Regions from separate parts of the Homo sapiens genome. Here region 1 is linked to region 2. Evidence: fine-mapped expression QTL. Tissue or cell type: whole blood. Region 2 holds a variant in brackets; the other region holds the start of a gene. All regions are shown on one strand. Distances are from middle to middle.

Region 1 (8,099 bases), 120 kb before region 2:
ATACGTCAGCGCATTTGACTCCCAAAACAGCTCTAGGAGGTAGGTGCTAAATGAGGAAACGAAGGCACCAAAAGGTGAAGGCTCACCTAAAGCCACACAGCTGGAAGTGGCAGAAGCAGAATGGGAACCCGGGCAGCCTGGTTCCTGGCCCTGCCATTCACCCCTCTGCCATCTAGAAGATGCTACTGGTGGCCCACCCGAGTCCACTGGGGGGTGATGCCTGCTGCTGAGGGTTCACATCTGTGCTCTCTGGAGGCTTCCCTTGGCTACTGGAAGGCACCCTGCCCTGGAGATAAGTGTCTGGGAAGTTATTCACTCCTCTCTGGCCCCCTCATCCAGGAGCCAGTAACCGGTGGTGTGGGCACACTGTGGTACTGTGGGCTCTGCCTGGAGCTCTCCGTGGGGCCAGCTGAGGCTGGACGTCCTCTGAAGCCACTTCCTTGCCCAGCTGCTCCCTCCCCTCCCCTGCTTCCCTGACTCCCTCGCTGAAGCCCCATTCCAGACCCTGCTTCTGACAAACCTGAACTAAGGCAGCATCTTTGCCCATAGAATGACCCAGAAGCTGGCACACCGTTGAGCCAAGAAGTGCAGTAGGCTGCGGGGATTTTATTTCTGCCCCCAGACCAAGGCAACGGAGCCCTCACCTGCCTGCCACCCCCACACTGGGCCCAAGCAAGCTCAGGTGAGCGCACATACATCCACCGTGGCGGGCTCCTCTCGGGTGAAGCCATCACCGAAGCCCTCATCGTCCACCAGGTCGGGCTCACGGCAGCACATGGGACAGAGGCTGTTGCGCACAGCAGAGGCTCGGAGCCAGACGACAAGGTTCCAACGCTCACCAGTGCCCAAGGGCCGGGCTCCATGCAGCTGGCCGCCACGGTGGAGGACACCCTGGCCCACCACGTGCTCCACCTCCAGGGGCTCCGTCAGGGCTGTGGGTGCCTGCAGATGGCACGACTCAGGCCTGGGCACTCACAGCTGCCCCAGGCCCTGCCGCATGGGTCACACACTCACCTGGAAGAGGCCCCCAAAATACAGGGCGCCCCCTGTGAAGACCTTGCCCAAGGCCACATTGAGGGTGAGCTCGGCATTATCATAGTGGCAGCCCAGCTCCAGGTCCTGGCCCGGTGCGTATTTGACCACAAAGGCCCGGTGGCTGTCGAGCCGGCCCCCGCCACAGTCAGGGTACAGCAGGGCCATCAGCGGCTGCAGGAAGCGCTCCCGCAGTGGTGTCATCAGCGGCTCGTCCAGCCCGAGCTCGTGCAGCAGCACCTGGGAGGGGATTCCTGGGGTCAGCAAGGAAACTAGAGGGCTGCAACCCTGGGCTTCCACTCCACGGTGATCCCACTGTGACCTTCTTTCGCAGCCCGGGCAGGCAGCCCATCTGCAGAACCTCTGACACTGCCTCCTGACCCCAGCCACCCCCTCCTCTGCCACCGGCCAGGCCTCACCCACCCCGTAGTTGTTCATGGTGTTGGGCCTCCCCTTAGGCATGTCCGATTGCTCGAAGTGCTCCAGCTCTTCCAGCAGGGCCTGGCAGAAGGGCGCTGTGAAAACAGGCACCCGGTAGATGCGCTTCTCCTCTGTGGAAGGAGGGATGGTCTGTTGGCCTGAATGTGGCCGTGGGCCGGCCAGGCCTGGGCTTCAGTCTTCCTGTTTCATCACCTGTGCCATGGAGATGAGGCCTTTGCTTTTCAGGGCTATTGTGATGACTTAAGGAAGTAACATGAGGAGCAGGGGAGGCCGATTCCCATGCCCCCCACTTATGCCCGGAACCTTTCCCCAGACTCTACAAGTGTCCACAGGGCTGGCCCTGGGAGCTCACATATGGGTCCTGAGGCCCAGAGAGGGGAAGGAAGTAGCCCAGGGACACCCAGCAGGCCAGTGACAGCCAAGTCGGGATCACAGAGCCAACTTCAGGCTCTCTCTGCACCTCCTTTCATCTGATGAGCCACCGAAGTCTGTACCCCAACTCAGAAGTGGCTCTGGGAGCCTCTGTCCCCCAGCAGGAAGGCCAGAAGGGGCTGTTCTTTCTTGCTGGGCCCTGAGGGGGAAGAAACCAGGCTGAGAATGGAAACCTAAACATTTCTTGGCGGACGCACCAATGCCCAGGGGTGCAGGGCTAGTGTGCCCACGATGGGGCCACCTCGCAGCCTAGGCCCTGCCCCAGCCAACAGCCTCAGCACTATCTCAGCTGCCGGGGAGTGGAAGGCAATGAGGAGAGCACCCCCAGGCTGGGAGGAGGGGGATTCATTCCACCCATGACTCCCAACAAAGCACAGGCTCCATGAGGGGAAACTTGTATCTGCCTCCCACAGGAGCCCCTAGCCCAGGCTATCAGTGCCAATAAGAATAGGAAACACTTTCCAAACACTACGTGCGGGCCCTGTGACAGGCACTCTATGCAGATTAACTCACTTGATCGTCGCAGTGCCTTAAGAGAGGGGGTTACTGTTGCTCCCATTTTACAGATGAGGAAACTGAATCAGAGGTTAAACAACACGCAAACCTCCCTTGCCCAGCATTTCCTGCTGGGTTTAGCCAATAAGTGAGCCCAGCAAGAAATCCGAAGAGAAGTGGGGCATTTTTTGCCCTACTTGGAGTTTGGCATGGCCGCAGGCCTCCGCCCAGAGCCACAACTCCAGGTGGTAACTGCTCCCTCCTGTTGCCAGCCCTGGGGGGCCGGGCTTTGCCATTCCTTACTGGTCCCTTTATCCTGCCCATACCTGTCTCAATGGTCCCTTTAAGATCTTGGATCAGCCCTGTTTGAGTGTGCCAGCTGTCCCACACATGACACAAATATCCACTATTTGCTGGATGAGGGCACGAAGGAAGGGTGAAGGAAAGAATGAAGATACCAGGCTCATGGCAGGTATTGAATGAATGAATGCGGATGTCCTGCTCCTGGCAGGTTGGTCCCACTGACCCTTCCAGCTCCTGCTGGTTTGGTTTTTGGAGGCAGAGATGGTGGCTGGAGGGACCCCAGCATCCCACACCCAGGTTTCCCAGGCTGCCATTCCCTGGTCCTGCCAGGTCTCAGGGCCAGGACCTCACCCGATACTGTCTCCAGCCGCTGGAGAAGGCCCTTGAGGTCTGCGTCTGGGGACACGCTGTACTCAGTCACGGCCAGGAACTCGGGGGCCAGAGCTGCATCCTGGGAGCAAAACACACCAGCTGTGGGGCAGGCAGCACCCCCAGCCCTGGATGCTACCTCCTCTTTCCAGTACCGGCCTTCAAGCACTCTGGCTGGCTGGTACCTGCAGTGAGTCGTAGACCTCAGGCCGTGCCGGGTGGTAGGAACTCGCGATGAGGGCTTTCCTAGCTGCTGACTCCTGCCCCAGCCGCTGCCGCCGCTCCACCTCCTGCTCAAGCTGGGGTGGCACAGGGTTGTTACCAGGTGGGGCCTCCCATCCTCCTGAGGCCACTGTACAGATGAAGAAACTGAAGCCCAGAACGCCAGACAGGGCCCAGGCTGGAAGCCAAGTCTAGCCTACACTCCTGAATCTATCTGGGTCAACTGCAAGTTCCAGACTGTTAGCTGAAAGGGACTTCTAGAAGGGGACCCATCCTGTTTCAGGCTGCCCCAACCTGAGCCTAGCTGGGATGAGAACCCCTAGATGTACCTCAACCATCTGGGCCCACACAGGGACAGGAGACAGTCATGGCCAAGTCCTGTGTTCCAGAGGTTGCTGAGGACTCTCCTGGGAAGCTTCCCACCACTGACTCCAGGGGAAGGAGGAGGAGGGAGTGGGGCAGCAGCCCTGGCAGCAGCCTGCGGGGTATATGGTAAGGTGTGAGGAGCCCAGGGGCCTGGAAGCTGTGGCTGGGATCACATCTGCTCCTGCTGTAAAAGCTTGGGCAAGGGATCCCTCTTTAAGCCTCAGCTTCTCAATCCAAAATGAGAGTGGTGCTTGTGCTTATCTCACAGAGCTGTTAAGAACGGCATGACTAGGCAACTTAGCAACTTAGCATTTCCCCTTCTCTCTCCTGGTGCCAAGACTCAGGTGTGGAGGGATGAGTGGGGGGCAGGAAGGAGGAAAGTGAGGGCCTAAGTGACCCTTCAGGGATCAGGGACTGAGGCTAGGCTCAAGCTGTGTCCTCAAGCTGCGGACACAAATCTAACGAGGAGGAGCTGTGCAGGGGCAGGGGACTGGTACCTCTGCTAACAGCTGCTGGAAGTCCTTGGCGCTAACACAGCCTCGGCTGCGCAGGATCTGGGAGCAGAAAGAACACTGAGCATGACTGTATGACCTGAGGAAATCCCTTCACTCTCTAAGCCTCAGTTTCCCCTGCTTAAAATGGGGAGAGGAGCCCCGACCTCAAAGGATCATGGAGAGAATGAACTGCGGAACCCTGTCAAGCTCAGGACAGGGCTCCGGGCTGGTGTTGCTGTGAGGCGGCAAGCTGAGCCCGGCCCTGTCCTAAGCACCCTACATGCTTGTTCATTCCTTCCTCACAATCTCACAGGGAGATACTATTACCCCTTTACGGTGAGAAAACCGAGGCAGAGAGAGGCCGTCATTCTTGTATTTGAAGATACGGTGCGCGGCGTGCGCAAAGCAAACGACCCTGGGGACGAACTTCCCTCCTCCACTACCCCTCTCTGCCCACTGCTCCGTAGGGACGACAGCGGCCACTCACCGGGCCGTAGTCCCGGCGCAGCTGCTGCTCGCCTCGGAAGCGCACGTGCAGCCCATAGCGCGCCACGTACAAGTTATCGGTGCAGAAGCAGGCGCAGCGGCAGAAGTGCCGCGGAGCCCCCACCGTCGCCATAGTGAAGCACCCACAGCCCTACCAGCTTCCGTAGAGAGACTTCGGGCACGCCCCCAACCGCGGGAGGCGCGGAACCAGCGGCCAAGGGGCCGCTCTAAGTTCCCAAGGGCGGAAAAGGACGAAGACGCACCTCGCCAGGAAACGGTCTGCGGAGAAAGATGCTCCTGGGCCGGGTTGGGACCGGCGGCCTCCTCGTTCCGCCTCCCAGTTTTCCCACTACGAGGCAGGGACTAATGGCTCCACTTTACAGACAGCTGAACTGGGTCGTGCCTTCACAGGACGGGGAGAGGAAGGGACTCGGAGCCCCAAGGCCTTTGACTTAAACGCCGACCCACCCCCCGCCGTCTGCCCGGAGCTCGTGGAGAACCAGCCGAGCTGAGGACAGTTTAAAGAGCTCGGAGGTCCGACTAGTTCCCGCTGGTGCTTCAATCATCCAGCCCTGTACGTTTCAGTTTGGATTTAGCATCTACCCCGGGTCCCTGCCTGGCGCTTCCGGTCCCTCCGCCACAGTCTGTTGGATTACCTCAGATTGCCCCAGTGAGTGTCTCCACCAAAACGCTCCGTCTCGCATTACTTCCGGTGGCGTTCCCAATGGACGCGGGAGGGCGGGGTCAGGTGTGGGAGGGCGACGGGGCGTGGTCTCACCGCAGCCAACAAATGACAACTCTTGCAGACCGAGCCTCTTCTCTCCCCGGACCTTTGCTCAGGAATCTACCAGCATTAAACCTTTGAGCTAGGTACTATTATATCACCGTCTTACAGATGAGGAAACTGAGACCCAGAGAGGCACAGGGACCCGCCGCAGGTCACACATCCAGTAAGGGGCAAATATGGCGTTTGAACCCTACAGAGTTCCCCAGTTAACCACCACAGGGCTTCTGGGAGTGGTGGAAGTATGTGGGATTTGGGGTTTTCTCGTGCAGAGCTGCCCGGCCCGAGAAGGTGTTTAACGTTTTACAGTCGTCTTGATTGCCCAGTGATAGTGAGAGGCCCTGCTATCTAGGAAAGGATCCATTTCCCCAGATCAATGTTCATTACCCGCCTAACTGCCCTTTTTCCCCAGGAGGCCCAGGGCAGGTCGGCTCCCCAGCCACCCACCAGGCAGGCCTGGCACATGCAGCACCCCACCCCACCCTCACCCCCTCTCCGTTTGCAGCAGTTTGCAAGATGAGTGTGTTGTACCTATCAGTTTATTTATTTGTTTATTTACTTTTTGAGATAGAGTTTCACCCAGGCTGGAGTGCAGTGGCGCGATCTCCGCTCACTGCAACCTCTGCCTCCCGGATTCAAGCAGTTTTCCTGCCTCAGCCTCCCGAATAGCTGGGATTATCGGCAGGCGCCACCACGCCCAGCTAATTTTTTTGTTTTTTGTTTGTTTGTTTGTTTGTTTTGAGACGGAGTCTTGCTCTGTCGCCCAGGCTGGAGTGCAGTGGCACGATCTCGGCTCACTGTAAGCTCTGCCTCCCGGGTTCACGCCATTCTCCTGGCTCAGCCTCCCGAGTAGCTGGGACTACAGGCGCCCGCCACCACACCCGGCTAATTTTTTATGTTTTTAGTAGAGACGGGGTTTCACCGTGTTAGCCAGGATGGTCTTGATCTCCTGACCTCGTGGTCCCCCTGCCTCGGCCTCCCAAAGTTTTTGTTTTTTTTTTTTTTTTTTTTTTTTTTTTTTTCTTTTTTTGAGACGGAGTCTCGCTCTGTCGCCCAGGCCGGACTGCGGACTGCAGTGGCGCAATCTCGGCTCACTGCAAGCTCCGCTTCCCGGGTTCACGCCATTCTCCTGCCTCAGCCTCCCGAGTAGCTGGGACTACAGGCGCCCGCCACCGCGCCCGGCTAATTTTTTGTATTTTTAGTAGAGACGGGGTTTCACCTTGTTAGCCAGGATGGTCTCGATCTCCTGACCTCATGATCCACCCGCCTCGGCCTCCCAAAGTGCTGGGATTACAGGCGTGAGCCACCGCGCCCGGCCTTGTATTTTTAGTAGAAACGGGATTTCGCCATGTTGGCCAGGCTGGTCTAGAACTGAGACCACTGCGCCTGGCCTGCTTATCAGTTTAGATTGGCCCTCTCCATGGACCCTCTCCTCCTTCCAGACACTCTGGGCTCAGTCACCGAAGGGAGCAGCAGCAAGAAGAATATTTACCAGCAAGTACTGAATCAACATGTGCTGCCAGCCAGCGCTGACATGTATCTTTGTTGACTGCTTAAGGTATTATTACCCCCATTTTACAGATAAGGAAAGTGAGGTGGGTACAGGAATCTGTCTAGAGTCATAAACCTAGTGAGTAGCAGACCAGAATTAGAACGCTCCAGAATTAGAGTATCTTGATTCCAGAGTCGTATGTATATGTGTATGTGAATATATGTATATGAATGTGCAATCATATGTATATGTCTGTATATGTGTATATTTACACATACTTTAAAAATTGACATAGAGGCCAGGTGTGGTGGCTCACGCCTGTAATCCTAGCACTTTGGGAGGCTGAGGCCAGCGGATTACCTGAGGTCAGGAGTTCGAGACCAGCCTGGGCAACATGGTGAAACCCCGTCTCTACTAAAAATATAACAAAATTATCCAGGCGTGGTAGCACACGCCTGTAATCCCAGCTACTCGGGAGGCTGAGGCATGAGAATCACTTGAACCCAGGAGGCGGAGGCTGCAGTGAGCCGAGATTGCGCCACTGCACTCCAGCCTGGGCGACAGAGTGAGACTCTGTCTCAGAAAACAAAAACAAAAAAGTCAACATAGAGCACTGGACAAACCCATGTAACCAGCACCCAGATCCCAATCAGAACATTCCAGCCCCCGTAGAAGCGCCCCTGTTATTTTTCTCGACTGCTTTCTATTCCCTTGAGTGAACATTCCACAAGTCATTGACCCATTCTACAGCTGACAGACATTTACGCTGTTTCCAGTTTAAAGACATTACGAATGAGGCCAGGCGCCATGGCTTACGCCTGTAATCCTAGCACTTTGGGAGGCCAAGGCGGGTGGATCACGAGGTCAAGAGATCCAGACCATCCTGGCTACAAAAAATTAGCCGGGCGCGGTGGCTGGCGTCTGTAGTCCCAGCTGCTCGGGAGGCTGAGGCAGGAGAATGGCGTAAACCTGGGAAGCGGAGCTTGCAGTGAGCCAAGATTGCACCACTGCACTCCAGCCTGCGTGACAGAGTGAGACTCTGTCTCAACAAAAAAAAAAAAAAAAAAAAAAGACATTATGAATGAAGCTGCTATGAACATTCTTTTTATTATGATAACATCTACATAACGAAATTTACCATTTTAACCACTTTTAATAGATTTCCTTTTTTTTAAGATCAGTT
Region 2 (8,099 bases):
AGCTGCCCCATGAGCTCCAGAGCCCGGGCCCCGCACTCCCTGCAGGTGTCTATGAGGCCTGGGGTGAGAAAGGACCGTGAGTGGAGCCCCCCCCACCGACAGGCTCCATAAGGACCCCCAGGGGAGACAAGCCAGTGAGGTGGACAGAACCTGCCATCCCAGGACCCACTTACGGTCGGCAGGGTCGGTGGGAGCCAGGTGCGAGGTGGCACCGCCATTGATGATGGTATCCGCAGCCAGGTGGGAGAAGCGGGTCAGAGCTGCCACCAGGGCGGAGGCGTCTGTGCGGGTGGGTGGGGCCAAGGTTGGGGGAGGATGACACTGAGACACTAGCACTGGGACCACCGTCGGTGGCCAGCTATCCCAGGAGGAGGAGGAAGAGGAAAGGAGGGCTCGGCAAGACAACGTCCAGGAGGCAGTGGGAACCACACCACAGTGTGTGTGGCCCCGGGCCCTTCAGTGCTCTGCCACCTGCAGACATATGGTGGCCCAGGCCCCAGAGGCAAAAGCCTATTTGTCCACAGGGCAGGGGTGGGTTCCTGGGAAGGAGCAGGCAGGGGGCATCTGCTTGGCTTCCCAGAGAGGTCCCTGCTGTCTGTAAACCTCCCAAAAGGCAAGAGGTGGCCATGGGCGCTGGAACTGGGACACAGCCCCCGCCTCCGCCCTGCCCTGGCTACACTCACCTGCCAAGGAGGTCAGGTACTGGGCGTGGCCCTCCTCCAGGGTGCTCACGGCATCCAAGGCCTCCTGGGCCCTGCTCACCAGGTAGTCTGCAAGCACGAGGAGAACTGAGGCCCCTGCCACCCGCTGCTCAGGGCTGGGGATGGGAAGGAGGCAGGGGAGCGGCTGAGTGTGGCCCCACTGTCTACCTGGGGAGCTGGTACAGCGCAGGTGCAGGGGGTCGTCCAGCTTGCTCACGGCATCCTGCAGGATGCCCGCGGCCTCGGCAGCAGCGCCCCGCAACACTGCGAACTGCTCGTCCAGCAGCCTCTGCCGCAGCCCCTGCTCCTGAGACTCCTGGCAATGGGGGTGAAGAGGACAGGTTAGAGATCCTCCCCAAGGCCAAGGATGTGCCCCAGCCCTGGAATGACCCATGGGCCACCAGTTGGAGCCCAGCTGAGACCCTCACTGGTCAGGGGGGTGGAGATTTCTAGAAAGAGGCTTCCCACACAGTGCACAGCTCAAGAATAAAAAGATAACCCAATTAAAACGTGAGCTCAAGGTCCTAAAAGACATTTCTCCAAAGATACACAAATGGCCAGGTAGCTCATGAAAAGATATGTAGCACCCTTTGCTATCAGGGAAACACAAATCAAGACCGTGAGAAACCACTCCACACCCACTAGGATGGCTAAAATAAAAAGAAGACAATAATAAGCATTGGCAAGGATGTGGAGAAACTGGAACATTCATGCGTTGCTGGTGGGAGTGTAAAATGGTGCAGCCACTTTGGAAAACAGTCTGGTAGTTTCTCAACAGGGTAACAGAGGTGAGACCCAGCAGTTCTACTGTGTTCCACACACATCAGCTATCTATCCAAGATAAGTGATGGCAGATGTTTACACAGAAACTTGTGCTCAAAGGCCCACAGCAGCACTATTTACAACAGCCAGAAAGTTGCAACAAACCCAATGTCCACCAAGTGATGAACAGATAAACACAATGTGGTCTGTCCACACGGCAGAGTACGACTCAGCCATAAAAGGAATGAGGTAATGACACAGGCTATGATGTGGTGACCCTTGACAACGTGATGCTGAGTGAAGAAGCCGGACACAAAAGGATGCATCGTGTATGATCCCCTTTACATGAAATCTCTAGAACAGGCAGATCACGGAGACAGATCGATGGTTGCCAGACGGCAGTGAACTCAGTGGTGCTGCTGCATCTGGGGAGGCCATACCCTCTCTGCCAGCCGGCCCTGCAACTCGCCCTGCTCCTGGGAGCTGCGCTGCTGCTCCCGGCTCAGCGCCGCCTCTGTCTCGCGCACCAGGCTCTGCGCCGCCAGCAGGTCTGCCTCCCGCTGCCGCACAGCTCCACTCAGAGCATCCTTCTCCGCACTCAGCGTGTCCAGCCGTGAGCTCAGCTCCGACTTGCTCTGTGGACAGACATGGACACCAGGCATGTGAACAGAGCTCCCAGGCCCCACCCACCCTGCCCCCACGCTTATAAACTGGGCCCTGGGGGTTAGTGATCACTTCCATTAGACTCAGGGCTCCCTGAGGACCAGCGGTAGGTCCTGTCTCCCATGTAGCCCCTGGGTCTGGGTCAGGGCTGCATCCCAGGATCACCGAGTGGCACCCAGGTGGGGCCTGTTCACGGGAAAGAGGACCTGACTTCCACCCAGGACTGGCCCCAGAACCCCACCTCCAGTCATCAAAGCCAGATGCACCTGCTCTGTGTGGCTCAGGGCCTCCTGCGCGCGGGCCAGCTCTCCGGCCTTGGCCTCCAGCTCCCTCTTGAGCTTCTCCAGCTGGTCGCTCTTCTCCTCTAGCTGGGACAGGACAGCGTGTCACTGGGGCAGTGGGCTGGGGATGCCGGGGCAGGGCCCTGTGCCACAAGGGACATACCTTCAACTCCGACTCCCGCTTCACCTGCTCCACCTGGAAGGCCAGCTGCTCCTTCACCCGCGCCACCTCCTCCTGGCTTTGCTGCGTCACCGTCAGCTGCTTGGCTGTGTCCGCGTTCTGCATGGGCAGGGGAAGGGCTCATGCTCTGCTGCCATCCCCGAGAGGCCCTGCCACCGGCTGGGATGGAGGATGGGCTGCACCTACCTTTCTGAGCAGCTCCGCGTGCACATGGACGAGCTCACTGTGCTTTTCCTTCAGCTTGTTGTAGCGCGCCTCCGTGGCACTGGCCTTCCCTGGGGGCGAGAGGAGGGGCAGTGATGCCCCGTGTGGGGTGGCAGGGGCTGGGGACACACCCTTGGACCCCTGTGGCCAAGGCCCCACGTACTCTCAGCCTCCTCACGCAGGCCCTGGCTCCGCTCGCCCTCCAGCTGGGCAGCCCTCAGCTGGGCCAGCTCGTGGCGGAGCTGCTCATTATCCACCAGGGCCTTCTGCTTCTGCTTCCGCTGCTCCTCCAGCTCACCCTCCAGTGCATTCACCTGGCTCTTCAGCTGCGCGATGTACCGCTGGGCCTGCGGGAGGAGGTGTGACGTGGGGCCCTGCCTGGGCCGTGAGGGGCCCTGGCCCCCACCCATCCCCACCCCGCACCTCCAGCTTGATCTTCTCCAGTTCAGAGCGGAGCATTTCCACCTCTCTCTTCAAGCTCTCAATCTGGAGGTCCCTGGGGACAGAGGTCCTGGGGTTCAAGTTAAGTCAACCAGAACAGTCAACAGACCCAGCACAGGAACCTGTCTCCTCCTCAGTGGCCACTCAGGATTTGGGCACCTCACGGGTTCATGTTCCCCACCTATGGCCTTTCCAGACAGAACTGTCCAGAGCACAGCTCAGCTGAGCCCGTTTCCAACCACCCCCAGCCCAGTCGGCTCCTCCAGCCCTCACCTGTCGTCCTTCACAGACCCATTGGGGGGTCCAAACGTCTGATCGAAGAGGTCAGCCACCACCTGCCACAGCAAAGCATGGTGACCCCACTCACCTGTGCCCTCCAGGCCGGGCAGTGGGCAAAGGGAGGGCTGGCCACCCGACACTCCCGTTGGCCTCATGCTGCAGCTGGAGGACTGGGGGACACGGGCTGGGCAGGGGGCTCACCACTGGCTCCCCCGCGGGGGGCCCTGTGCTGATCTCAATGAGATTCTCCGGCTCCTCATCTTCCGGGGCCTCCTCGGGGATCACCACCACCGGCTTGATGTGCTCAGCCAGGGCTGAGGCCCGCAGGAAGTTAGGGGGTCCCTGCAGGGGCGGCAGGTGGGACCTGCTCAGCTGTCCCCTAAGCAAGCCCTCCTTCCGCCATCTCCATAGCCTGTGTGGGGCCCAGCCAGGTGCCTGGGGTCCTCAAAGGGCCTCGGGGCCCTCTTGGGGGTGGTACCTCGGGCAGCCGGGGGATCTGGATGAGCCGCTTGAAGTACAGCATGTCGGAGGCTCTGCGGAAGAAGTTCCTGAGGCTGCAGAGATGGTGGGAAGTTCGGGTTCAGGAAGGGGCCACGGAGCCTCTCCCCCACCGGCCTCAATCCTGTCCCTGTCCCAGGCAGTACCTGTGAAACTGCTCGTGGAACCGGTCCCTGTGGCCTTGCAGGGTGTCCGCAGGGAGACCTGGAGGGTGGCACAAGTGTAACAGGACTTCTCTGCACACTGCTCAGGGGCTCACCTGCCCTGCCTTGTTCCTCCGTATGCTACAAACTCACA[G/C]ATCAGAGATCACCTGAGACCGGGCCAGGCCCGCTCTCCCATCGGGATGGGGAGACCTGTGGGAGACGCTGTGGGAGGGCTCAGTTCAGACTGAGCTAGAGAAGGAAACAGCGAATGGAAAGGAAGGCGCTGCGGCCACATCTCACCTAACCCACACCTGGCTTCGGGAGGCACTAGCAAGCCGCTTTCACCAAACACGTTGGTCCCAGGCTGACACTAACACAGTGGTTCTCAAAGTGCGGTCGAGGGACGAGACCCTTTCAAGGGGTTGGTTAGATCAAAACTCTCCTAACACCCCAGACACCTTTTGCCTTTTTGCGCTTGCACCCCCAGGGTGCCTGGCGGGAGATTCCTGGGAGCAGCTGGGGCCTCCGTCTTGGCCGAGCCAGGCATTTAGTCGTAAAAATGAAAACCAAGCCACTCACTAAGTTTTTTGCTTGGTAAAGTAGTGGGTTTTTTTTTTTTTTTTTTCATAAAATATATGTTATTTCTATTAATGGGCAGTGGGTTTATTACTGCCATTTTTAAATGAATAAACCTCTAATTTTTCGATTTTCCTTTTTGACAGTGAATGTCTAAGCCATATAAACACAGCCTTCCGGGCCAGGGGTTGCCCTGGGCCACTCACAAGAGTGTAGCTTGAACAGGAGCTTGACCGTGTAGTGGTAGAGGTGGCTGCAGTCCTGGATGACCTGGATGAGGGGGGCCAGGCGGCACTGGCCTGAGGACATCTGGGATACGGCGATGGCCGTGTTGAGCTGTCGGAAAACTGTGCAAAAGGGGCAGGAGGAAGAACGTGAGCCCTTGGGAGCTGGGCAACCTGTCCAAGGTGGTCCAACTGTGAAGCAGGGCCCTAAGCCAGCTCCCACACACCAGTGTGCCCCCTGCCTCCAAGACGGGAGCCTCATGTGCTGGTGGCTGCCCCAGGTCAAGACCAGATGCTCCCATGAAGGAGGTCAACGGCAACAACAAGGTCAGGGCAAAGGAGCTCCCAGCCCAGCTCAGCAAGGGCTTCCAGAGACCTCCACCTGGGAGCCCAGGACGAGGTGCCCGACTGACAAGGGTGACGGATAGCTCCATGCCCACGGGCCTCAAACCCACGCTGAATGTTAGAGCAGGAAGGAGGCTCACGATGGAGCACCCCAAATGCCTAACTTTACAGATGTGGGAACAGGCAGGGCTTCTGCCAAGTAACACGGCACTAGGGTCACAGCTTGGCTCTGCACACCCCAAGTGACCCTGAAACCTCGCTTGCCCCCAGGGCCCATCTCCCCTGCCCCTGACACCCCCAGGGCCCGTCTCCCCTGCCCCTGACACCCCCAGGGCCCGTCTCCCCTGCCCCTGACACCCCCAGGGCCCGTCTCCCCTGCCCCTGACACCCCCAGGGCCCGTCTCCCCTGCCCCTGACACCCCCAGGGCCCGTCTCCCCTGCCCCTGACACCCCCAGGGCCCGTCTCCCCTGCCCCTGACACCCCCAGGGCCCGTCTCCCCTGCCCCTGACACCCCCAGGGCCCGTCTCCCCTGCCCCTGACACCCCCAGGGCCCGTCTCCCCTGCCCCTGACACCCCCAGGGCCCGTCTCCCCTGCCCCTGACAATCGGGCCTTGTATCAGAACTACCAAGTGGGAGGGACAAAGGACAAACATGAGGCTGCCTCCTCCTTGGCTGGCAGCTTCTCTGGGGCAGAGAGAATGACAAAGAGCAGGCAGCTGGCCAGCACGGGAGAGCGGCCAGACAGCCCCCGCTGCACAGACCTGTGCCCTGGCCCCTCAGGTCCTGCTCCTGCCTTGCCTGTGATGGGACCACTTGCAAATCTCTGCAGTGACAGGAGAGAGCCTGGGGGGGAGGGGCAAGAAGGAAGACACAAAGTGCCGCCCCTTGCCTTTTTAAAAAAGTAATCTCTAATTACATGTCATGCTAAGTATGTTTTCCTTGCAAAAAATTACAGCACACATAAAGTACTGCTTGGATCTTCAACACGTATGTCCATGCTGTTCGGCAATCTGCTTGATTTCACACAGTAGAATGTTTTCTAGATCTTCCCGGCCATCCCAGATTCGACACATCTCTCTTCCCACCACCCTCCGTTCTCTGCTCTGCACAGACAGCGAGACGCAGCCTCTGCTGAGGCATGTTTAGGACGTTTGTGTTTCTTTGCTGTTACAGGTCCTGAGGCAGGGAAGCCCCTGTACCTGTCACCTCTGCAGATCTGGGAATTTCTCCAGCAGATGCTGGTACACCCCATTTGTGCTTCATCAACACACCAGCGTCACCAGGTGGGAAGCGTGCCTGTGAGTGTTCTCCACTTCCCTCGTGGGGCCACTGCCTGCCCACACTGGCCTTCTCCCATGCCAGGGGTAACTGGCTCCTACCTGGTGGGCTCTGTGCTGAGAGGCTCAGGCTCAGCACATCTCTGCCAGGACACAGAGCCTGGTAGCCCTGTCCTGCTGCACAGTTGGGGCCACACCTTTGGACACCTGCCCTCTGCTCTCCATGTCAGATCCTGAGCAGGCTCTTCCCAGGCACAAGGGTCCAACTCTGAGCCCACCTCCCACCCACTGGAACTGAATACCCATCAGGCTCGCCCAGCTGCACTGGCCAGACCTGGGGACTCAGGGAGGCTGCCCAAACTGCCTCTAACTCCCAATTTTCCCTTAAGGAGGCATTTGCTTCTTGCCCTCTTATGGAGAGCACTGAGTCACCCATGAGTTGTTTTGAAGCTGCCACCCAGAACAATCAGTTCTCCAGCCTGGAAGCTGAGCCCTCTGAGATTTCCTGTCCAACAGCGGCCGGGTTCCCTCGCTAGGAAGTCTGACGTGACTCAGAGGCTTTCTAGAGCAGAAAATGGCAGGACGACCCAAACCTTTCTTCCAGCTGGGCTCTGCAGATGGCCCAAGGCTGGGGCAGGAACCTGGCAAGGTGGCTCCTGTGCACACCTCCTCACCCTCCCTGTCTTGGGGCTGATGGAGTGACACTCACTGGATGGAAGAGATGGCTGAACCTGTATCCTGGATGTACCCGCTGGGGCCTGCCATGCTTTGGAGGGGCCAGGAGGCCCCATTACCTATCCCTGGAGGTGCAGGGACCCCAGGAGGGGCAGGGGCATTTCTTTTTCTTTTTTTTTTTTTTAAGACGGAGACTCACTCTGTTGCCCAGGCTGGAGTGTAGCGGCATGATCTCCGCCGCCCAGGTTCAAGTGATTCTCCTGCCTCAGCCTCCCAAGTAGCTGGGAATACAGGCGTGCGCCACCACGCCTGGCTAATTTTTATATTTTTTTAGTAGAGACAGGGTTTCACCATGTTGGCCAGGCTGGTCTTGAACCCCTGACCTCAAGCAATCTGCCTGCCTCGGCCTCCCAAAATGCTGGGATTACAGATGTGAGCCACTGCGGCTGGCCAGGGTCATTTCATAGTGATCAGTTGGTCTGATCACTCATGTCTTCTTTTTTCTTCTCGTCCCATCTCTGGGGACTTAGCAATACACTCAGACCCCCGCATCCCCTCTTTACGGCTCACCTGATTCAGAAAGCTTCAGCTCACAATCCATGTAATCAAACATCTCCACAGTGAGCTGGAAGCTACGCAAGAGAAGTGGGGGAAGAAATGAAAAAGGGTGGGTGGACCCACCCACTCGTCCTGAGACGCCCCCTCCAGTGGGGACGGGGGCACCGCCGACACCATGGCTCTGGTGAGACAGCGTGCCTCTGCCAGGACGACAGTCCTTCAAGTACACCCCACCCTTTTAACTTCACCCTCTGTCCCTGGGAGCGTGAGCATCAACCAACAAAGCCACG

The links. PIP is the estimated chance that this variant, and not a neighbour inherited with it, causes the effect.
Region 1: OGFOD2 starts here. The variant in region 2 is fine-mapped to the expression of OGFOD2 in whole blood (TOPMed, PIP above 0.99).

The regions. Positions count from the first base shown.
Region 1 is chr12:122,971,926-122,980,024 of GRCh38, reverse strand. OGFOD2 (2-oxoglutarate and iron dependent oxygenase domain containing 2) reads right to left here and starts at 4,781. Exons shown (of 7, transcript NM_001304833.2): 1 at 4,642-4,781; 2 at 4,158-4,214; 3 at 3,258-3,371; 4 at 3,055-3,154; 5 at 1,456-1,583; 6 at 1,015-1,272; 7 at 1-942. The coding sequence starts at 4,773. The coding sequence ends at 679. It also overlaps a transcript of ABCB9 not described here. RefSeq lists enhancers at 1-147, 4,877-5,336.
Region 2 is chr12:122,851,020-122,859,118 of GRCh38, reverse strand. HIP1R (huntingtin interacting protein 1 related) reads right to left here. Exons shown (of 32, transcript NM_003959.3): 7 at 7,822-7,883; 8 at 4,936-5,076; 9 at 4,157-4,214; 10 at 3,991-4,066; 11 at 3,714-3,854; 12 at 3,507-3,568; 13 at 3,216-3,288; 14 at 2,956-3,139; 15 at 2,775-2,863; 16 at 2,571-2,687; 17 at 2,393-2,494; 18 at 1,904-2,098; 19 at 870-1,017; 20 at 684-770; 2 more. Among named protein-coding and RNA genes, the nearest start is that of HIP1R, 20 kb to the right of the region's middle. RefSeq lists an enhancer at 4,751-5,251. The variant G/C (reference allele first, on the strand shown) is at 4,308.